Regions from separate parts of the Homo sapiens genome. Here region 1 is linked to region 2. Evidence: fine-mapped expression QTL. A gene starts in region 2. The other region holds a variant in brackets. All regions are shown on one strand. Distances are between the middles of the regions. Region 1 overlaps LOC124904952 (a long non-coding RNA gene). Region 2 holds the start of BIRC7 (baculoviral IAP repeat containing 7).

Region 1 (4,502 bases), 72 kb before region 2:
CCTGCCTGCCAGGAAGGGTGAGCGCCCAGCACAAACAGATTCAGGGCCTCCCGCTGCCCCAGAGGACCTCTACATTCATCAACCCTTGACGTGGTTTTCAATTAGCGTGGAGGAACCAGGGTTTATCGCTCTTCTCCGTCACTCCATTTATATTTAATGCATTTATTGCCCACATTCTATATCAGGAACAACTGCCTAGAGGCTGCCCATCCCCAGGGAGCAGGGTTTTATTTTCCTTTCCTCGCAATCGATCAGAGATTAAGTTGCTGTGTAGCTTTTTATTGGAGACACACATTTGCTGTGTTTAACAGGAAACCAGAGAAGGAAGCTCAGCGTGGGCCATAAATGATTTTGCTTCCATTGATCAAAGAAAAGACTGCCCACATCAGTCATCATCACCCAATGCACTCTCTGAGGGCACCCTATATATGCTCAGGCACACACATGCACACGGGCACACACTATCCAAGAGGAGAGAGAGCCTTGAGATGGACTCAATGGCTCCTGGACACTACCCTCGGCTCCCCCACAGCCTCCTAGTGGCTTCACCAGGGGTGGACATCCAGACTTTGTCACAGCTGAAAGCCCCACCTGGCCTGTGAGGGAGCATCTGCAGCCCCGGACAGCTGCCCTGAAGTTGGCCCTGTGCAGAATGGTAGACCCTTTGGACCCACATTGGTCCATGGAATGGCAGAAGCCTGTTGTCCTTCCGCTGGCTGGGGCCTGAGCATCAAAGTCATCTTTGCTTCAGAATCAAGGAACCTGGGAGGGCTGAAAGCCAACCCTCCATCCCACCATGCTGATGGCGGCCACGGCTCCCCAGTGACTCAGGTTTGGGGATCCTGGTTGGTGATAATGAAGTGAGCAGCACAGGATGCCCTGCCAGGGCCAGGGGTCTATGCCCCCATGTCCCCTACCCCTGAGCAGGTGAGCTGGTACCGAGACAGGCAGCAGGTGCACTCCCAAGTCTTTGAGACGCTGCTGGCAGGAAGTGTTCCCTTCCGGATCTGTCCTCTCACGCACATGAGTGCGCACACACACACACAGGCACTTGCCATGGCACAGAGACATGTTCCACCAGAAGCCTGTGGACTACTCGCTTGGGCTTTAGGGGAGGAAAAGGGAAAAGGGAGGAATTGCTAGGCAACCAGCCAGGGGTTGCTATGGCATTTTCAAGAGAGCGGCTGGGCCAATCAAGGCTGACTGCAGGCAGGCGGAGGCGGGAGCCACCATGTCACAGCAGCTCAGACAGAGGGGAGCACACTGCTGCACAGGCCTGGGGAGGGCTGGCGCCTCATGAATATGCATCAGGCTGATTGAGGCAAAGTCAATTAACGACTTGACGGCTTGATTTCCCCTGGATTCTACTCTTCTCCTTTAACCATTTGGCTGACACAGGGCAGGCTCCCCGCTTTCCTGCTGGCCCCGGAGTTTTCTAACAGGTCCAATTTGCTTTCCTAATCCTGACCTGGCCCAGGGGTCCTGGCATTGCTTGGTGCTGTTTCTACTGAAATCTTCTGCCACCTATGCAGGCAGCCAGGTCGCTGGTCCCACAGTGGGTCCCTTGGTGCCCTGGCAAGGCCTGAATTCCTACCTGGGACCAGGCACAGTGCAGCAGCTCCTGCAGGAGATGGTCCAGTTACCCCCCTTGGACAGTTACCAACTAGCGACCACAGGCCTGGCCGACACACATCTGGGCAATGACCTCACAACCCCTGGGAGCATCTAGGCACAACCAGTTTTGTGGGTGGCGGTTGGAGAAAGCTGGGGGCCAGCCCAGGGCAGGATCTCCTTCCTGGGCTCTGCAGCAGTTTCTCATCTACTGCAGTGGGGTTCTGGCCAGAGCAGTCAGAAAGCATGAAGGAGGCACTGCTCGCTTCCTCCACGTGACTCCTGGGGTGCAAGCTGGGGCAGGGACCCCGGCTCTGCCAGAACCCCCAGGGGGCTAGCAGGGTCTTTGCTGGATTATATTTCTCCTTCATTTCATTGTTCTCCCCAGTGAATTCTGGGGATTCTGAGAATTCCATTTTGCCCTGAATCATACGCAGCTCTTTTGACAGCTTCAGAAGTGGACGTCCTGTTGTGTGCAGCGGGGAGAATGTCAACCCTATGATTAACGCCCCACATGGTGGTGGGAAGAGGCTGGGATGCCTCAAGTCCCAGGCCCAGAGGATGGTGGGCCTCACAAAACTTGGGTGCAGGGTGTTGCAGAGGTCCGTGCAAGAAGGGACCCCGAAGCTGGAAGCTAACCGCCACTGGCTTCTCAGGAAGTCCCCTTGACCAGAACCCAGTCCCAGACATATGAATCAGTAGCCAAAGAGGGCCACAAACTCTGGGTGCTGGCCCCGTGCCTGGCTCTGGGGGCAGAGACACACGGGCCCTTAGGGCTGAGAACTCAGGTGGAGGGGTCTGGGGTGGGAGGGTTAGTGGCAAGGAATGCACGGGAAGAACACAGTCAGCGGCCATGGACCTGGATCCTGTTCACGCACCTCAGGCCCACACGGTGGGCAGGACGGGTTAGAGCCGCCACCTGGGTCCAATCGGCCGGGTGGGGGCAGCCCAGGAAGGTGTTCCCAGGAGCAGACCCCAGGTTCCCTGTTGCAGCCCATCCCGTGGCCCGCAGGCTGCCTAATCTCCCTGCTGCAGCTCCCATTTGCTTGGCCTGCAGAAGGTTTTCAACCA[C/T]AGCCGAGCAAGGTCCTTAGGCACCTTCAAGGCTGAGACATTCGCCCCTGATCCACTGACTGTGGGCTCTCGGGAGAGCGGCCACACCCCTCTCACCATCAACAGTCACCTGGGCCTGGCCCTCATGGGAGACAGACTCGGCCAGCACCTCCCACTGCCCCCTAGTTGGGAGGAACCCCACTCTCACCTGGGGCTCCCGTCTGCAAGCTCCAGGTGGTAGGACCGACCTGGGTCACTCTCGAACCCCACACTCAGCTTGTGGCCCCCACACATGCTCACCCACCCATCGCCGCAACCGTTTAAAGAGCAAGGGCCCACACCGCACACTCAGAGCAGAGGCGGCCTTCCGAAGAGAGGGCGGGCACACATGGAAGCCACTCTCTTCAGCACTGAACTGAAAGACCCGGGCTGCCCTGAGCTTGGGATGCGGGAGGCACCTGGACAAGCAGGGAGGGCAGAGCCACTCACAGAGCTCAGGGCCAAGCTCATGGCCAGGGACAACTTCTCTGGGTCCTGCTGCCCCGAATCCTCCATTAGGCCTACAATGGACAAGGGAGGCATCACCCTTGAACCCAGCTTTTGAGAGAGCCCCACTCAAGGAAGGATGAGAGCGAGCACCTCCTGTCCCTCCCCGGCCCCAAAGCCCTCGAGCTGCCCCTTCTGCCCAACACCTGTGGTGCCCCTGCACTCAGTAGGTGCTTCATGTATGCTCCATGGACAGGGAAGTGAACACCTGGGCATCCGCACAAGGAGGTGGCACGCACTTATATTGGGATGAGGGACGTGTACTTCCACCAGAGGCCGGGGCTGCCCATCGGCCAGCATTTCCCAAAGTGTATCCTGGGTCGCACCTCGAAGTTGCTCTGAAGAAAGACCAGGGCCTCCTCCTGGAAGCCGGTGGCTCCTGGGTCTTCACTGCTATTGTTCCCTCCACATGGGAGGGTGGGGGCTGCCACCATGTCATGCACAGGGTGCACCCTCAGACAGCATGCACCCCAGGGCACACGGCAAACGGCAGAGCTGGCCTCCACCAGGGCTGTGCGGGGCTGCACTAGATCCAGCTTTCCGGGGCTCCAGGGGGTTCCTCACCAGCTCCTCTGAACACGCTACAGGCCCAGTTGACTGTCACTTTCACTGTTAGGGAGCATGAGGCGTTAGAATCAATCCTGTGACACCACTGTGTTGTCAGGAACGGGCCGTGCCAAGGGGCACCACTAGGTCAGGCCTCAAGGTCTCAGCTCCAGGATGCCTCACCCAGAGCAAGACCCAGGCTGTCTGCAGGACAAAGACGTCGGAAGGAAGAAGAGGGAGAAGCCAGGAAGGTGGAGGTCTCTGAGAAGATGTGGTGACACCAGGGCCCAAGGGCTCCCCAGCTTATGGTGGAGGGCACTGCCTGTCTTGGTGTCCATGAAACTTTGGATGAGGAACAGCAGGAGGACAGGACCCAGGCAGGAGCTTCCAGCTCAGGGAACGACACGCCAGGTGGAAAGAACGGAGCCCCGGACGCCGAGGACGGGAACAGGATCACGGGCACCTGGATGCACCAGGAGGGCGAGAGAATCAGGAGGGGAAAGGAGGAAGAAGGCCTTCAGTTCAGGAGGAGAAGGGCCTTGCAATGCAGAGACCTCGCAGACGCGCCGTCGGCCTGTGGCCAAGGTCAACACAAATGTGCACGGCCTGGGCTGTGGCATGGAGGCCTTCATCTCTCTGCTCTTCTCCCAGAGACAAATTCGCTACAGGACATCCAACAGGGCACCCGGCCACTCCCCTGGAGGCCCAGGTCACCATGCACAGGGCCGGTGAGACCACGGGGACAGCCT
Region 2 (4,000 bases):
GGACAGAGAGGGGGCGAAGGCGAGGTACCCTGAGATCATCCCAGAAAACACACTGGGAAGTTCTACCTTGTGTCTAGCCTAACTCCTTTGCTGGCCCTCAGGCCCTTTCCCGACAGCCCTCCCCTCCTATGCCCCTGAGCTTCCTGCTGCCTCTCCCTCTGCGCCCTGCAGCCCTGGCTTCTGGGCTCTATCCTCAGCAGGGCCTGCAGACACCCCAGAGGCCTTAAGAGCCTGGGAGGGGTTTCCAGCCACACCCTTCACTTTGATTTCTGCAGGAAACCAGGTGGCTCTGGGCCTTGCATAGGAAAGGGTTGGGGGTCTCGCTGGGGCCTGGCAACACTGGCCTGAGTATGACCAGAACAGTCACCAGAGGCCTCCTGGGAGGGCGGGTGCAGCCCCAGCCCCCGCCGTGAGTGGGGGTCGGGGGGCAGGTGTGAAAGTGTGGTGGGCAGCAGCTGGGTCTATGCGGCTCAGCAGTGGGAAGAGAACGGGCCAGGCTTCCAGGTGAGCTCAGGGACGGTTTTCACTGCAGCTAACCCTCTCCTGCCCACCTGCGCTCCCCGTGGCAACCAGCGGCCCTGCAGCGTGCGACTCCTCTTTATTCTTCCAAACTCTGTGAGCCTGCACGCTCCCATCCAGGACGGAACAGCAGGGGAGAGTGGCTGAAGGATGACAGGGGGCTTTTAGGGCCAGCCGGGTGGATGAGCTGGGTTTGCTGGGGTTGAGGGCTCAGTCGGGGGTTGGGGGGTGTCGAAGTCTGGGCCCCATCCAGCTGTCCTTTTTGTCCCGCCCAGGTGTCCCTGGGGTTCCTGTTCTGCCCCTGGCTTCTCTGGGGTTAAGTCCTCCTCCCTGTTCCCTCACTGTGGGGTTTGGCAGTGTGGCACAGTGTGGAGCTTGGACCGGCAGCCAGGGTCACAGCAGACCTCAGGAACTCCGATTCCAGTGCCAACACTGAGTACTCCTCTTTTGGGGGCATCAGAGCCTCTCCCTTGGCTACCTGGGGAGGCTGGTATGGAGGGAGGTGGAGGGAGATGGGGGAAGGGGGAGCGGGAGGTGAGGGCAGCTCGGGCCCTTCTTTTTGCTCTGATCTTCCTGGCCTGAGGACAAGAGCTGCTCCCAGACCTGCAGAGGCCCCTTGGGGCAGAGGGATGTTTCAGAGAACAGCCGGGTGACCTGCCTCCCTGCTCTGCGTGACGCAGCCCTAGGCCCCTGTGAGGCTAGAGTCACCCCCGCAAGGTGGGAGGTCACGGCCCCTGCCTGCACAGGCAGCACAGCTCACATGTCCTTCCTTGAGCCTTCTCTGCTTCCGGAGGCTGCCCTGGGCGCCTGACCTTGGAGCCATCATCTCCAGCTCCCCAACCCCTCCCCCACAGCCCTGGGGCAGACACCAGCCTGGGGAGGGGTCTCCATGCTCAGTTCCTTCCCGTCTTGTTCAGAGAGACGTGGCCTGCCCACGTGCAGTCAGCGGCATCCGCAACCCTGCCAGGGGCCCCGTGACACGCCCCCGCTGCACAGAGCATGTGACCCCAGAGGCCACCCTGGCCACTTCCAGAAAGCTGTGGGCCCTGGGATACTCCCCTCCCAGGGTGTCTGGTGGCAGGCCTGTGCCTATCCCTGCTGTCCCCAGGGTGGGCCCCGGGGGTCAGGAGCTCCAGAAGGGCCAGCTGGGCATATTCTGAGATTGGCCATCAGCCCCCATTTCTGCTGCAAACCTGGTCAGAGCCAGTGTTCCCTCCATGGGACCTAAAGACAGTGCCAAGTGCCTGCACCGTGGACCACAGCCGAGCCACTGGGCAGCCGGTGATGGTCCCACGCAGGAGCGCTGTGGACCCCGCTCTCTGGGCAGCCCTGTCCTAGGCCTGGACACCTGCAGAGCCTGGGACCACGTGGATGGGCAGATCCTGGGCCAGCTGCGGCCCCTGACAGAGGAGGAAGAGGAGGAGGGCGCCGGGGCCACCTTGTCCAGGGGGCCTGCCTTCCCCGGCATGGGCTCTGAGGAGTTGCGTCTGGCCTCCTTCTATGACTGGCCGCTGACTGCTGAGGTGCCACCCGAGCTGCTGGCTGCTGCCGGCTTCTTCCACACAGGTCAGTCCCGGGCGGGGGGGCCTTCCTGCCGTGGGCCTGGGCACGATTCTGGACCCTTCCAGCCCAGGGCTCTGCCTCCTCCGTAGCATCCATCCCCCAACAGGAAGGGTCTGGCCTGATGACGGAGCAGTGGTCCTGCAAGCCCCTCCAGTGCCCATGGGCTCGTGCCTGACACCCTCCCCCGGAGTCTCTGCTGGCTGAGTGTTTCAGACCGTGGGATGTGAGGAGGGGCTGCCTCTGGCCACAGTCTGAGGGTCTCAGCTGTGGAGGCCGCCAGCTTGGTGCACAAGTACCCCTTTGTGATAGAAGTGGGTGGGGCTGACATTGCCTGGGGCCCTCACCTTCCCCGCTGCTGTTCTGCACAGGGAGAGGAGATGTTTAAAGAACAGGATCAGGGTGACCAAGGCAGGCAGTGGTCAGCCAGAAGGTCCTGGATGCTCAGCCTGTGGGGAATTTCTCCAGGCCCCAACCTGCAGCTACTGTCTGGTCTTCCCCAACTGAATCAAGTCCCCGGAGTACCTATCCTAGTCTTGGCCCGGGCCTGCTCCTCTGCCCTACAGCTGCAGACCATGTGGTCAGACCTGAGTTCAGGTCCCAGCTCTGCCACTTCCTGGCTGAAGGACAGGGCAGCAGGGCCCACCGAGGGCTTTACAAATACTGGCACAGCCATGGTCATTGTCAGCAGTGGGCTCTGGCGGGGCACCATCCTGGTAAGGCTGGACCAACTTAAGACAGCTGGTCGGGGGGACAGTGGCTGGGACAGTCAGAAGCCGTGGCGTGAAGGGGCAGGCCCAGCTCACCCACCTCCCTGGAAGTCCAAGGCTCAGGAGGCAAAGGCCAGGCAAGAGGCATGGCAGGTGCAGAGCCGGGGTCTTTGGGGCTGGTAGAGGTCCAGTGCCCGATGCAGCCCAAACCTGTGATGTCAGTGGCAGGTGACGTATCGCATGGATGCCGATGAGGGGACGGGGTCGCCAGGAGGTAGAGAGATGACGGGTCCCCCACCCCCAAAGGGAGGCATGAGTTCCTAAAAGCAAGCCTGGCCCCAGACTGGCCTTCTAGGGCAGCCTCCCTTCTTCTTCTCACTGGGAATCCATCTTGGGGAAGCAGAGACCTGGGGAGGGGCCCTTCTGGCTCCTGAAGCCCCAGGGCTATAGATGTACCAAGCCCTGGGGGGCCCCCACTGCTCACTCTGGGAACAATGCAAATGCCAGCTCAGTCCTTTCCTGAACATTCTCGCCCATCCTGGCCGGCACCCCAGTCACCCTTGTCCCCTTTTCACCTTTGATGCTAATGAGGTACAAGTGACATCCCCCACCAAGCCCCCTGCCCACCCCCTCCTCCTTCTTGCCACCTGGGAGCTCCCCTCCAGCTGAAGCTCTCATAGCCTTGGAAGGACACACCGGGGGCCCGGGGACTGGGTGGGACTTGGCTGGGGCCAGCATCTCTCCGCACCCCAGGCCATCAGGACAAGGTGAGGTGCTTCTTCTGCTATGGGGGCCTGCAGAGCTGGAAGCGCGGGGACGACCCCTGGACGGAGCATGCCAAGTGGTTCCCCAGGTACCGGCTGCCCCTGCGGGGCCCCGGGTCTGATCATGGGTAGGGGGTGGGCCCCCAACGGCTCTGTCGACCCAACACCAGGCCTGCTTTGCCTCCCTGGCCCCACAGGGCACTGGGGAGGCCCTTCTGTGGGAGGTGCTTCTGGCCGGCAGGTACCCACTTTTCCTGTGAGGGCCCCTTTTCGGAAGGGCTGCTGGGGGCAGAAATGCCTCTCCCATGGGACTACCCTGAAGCCCCATGGAGGCGTCTCCACAGCAGCCCTCCTCGCCCATGCCCACGGGCACTGCAGGGTGGCGGGAGGAGGGGGCCCAACCCTGACCCCCGGGGATCCAAGGGCTTGAAGCAGACAGTGGGGGCC

What was found. PIP is the estimated chance that this variant, and not a neighbour inherited with it, causes the effect. A credible set is the group of variants that fine-mapping cannot tell apart.
Region 1: its variant is the best candidate, but not a certain one, in a credible set for the expression of BIRC7 in whole blood (INTERVAL, PIP 0.79).

The regions. Positions count from the first base shown.
Region 1 is chr20:63,162,587-63,167,088 of GRCh38, forward strand. LOC124904952 (a long non-coding RNA gene) reads right to left here. Exons shown (of 2, transcript XR_007067715.1): 2 at 264-4,502. Among named protein-coding and RNA genes, the nearest start is that of MIR124-3, 14 kb to the right of the region's middle. RefSeq lists a silencer at 4,482-4,502. The variant C/T (reference allele first, on the strand shown) is at 2,683.
Region 2 is chr20:63,234,361-63,238,360 of GRCh38, forward strand. It overlaps BIRC7 (baculoviral IAP repeat containing 7), which reads left to right and starts at 1,545. Exons shown (of 7, transcript NM_139317.3): 1 at 1,545-2,085; 2 at 3,543-3,642. The coding sequence starts at 1,737. RefSeq lists enhancers at 361-962, 1,310-1,429.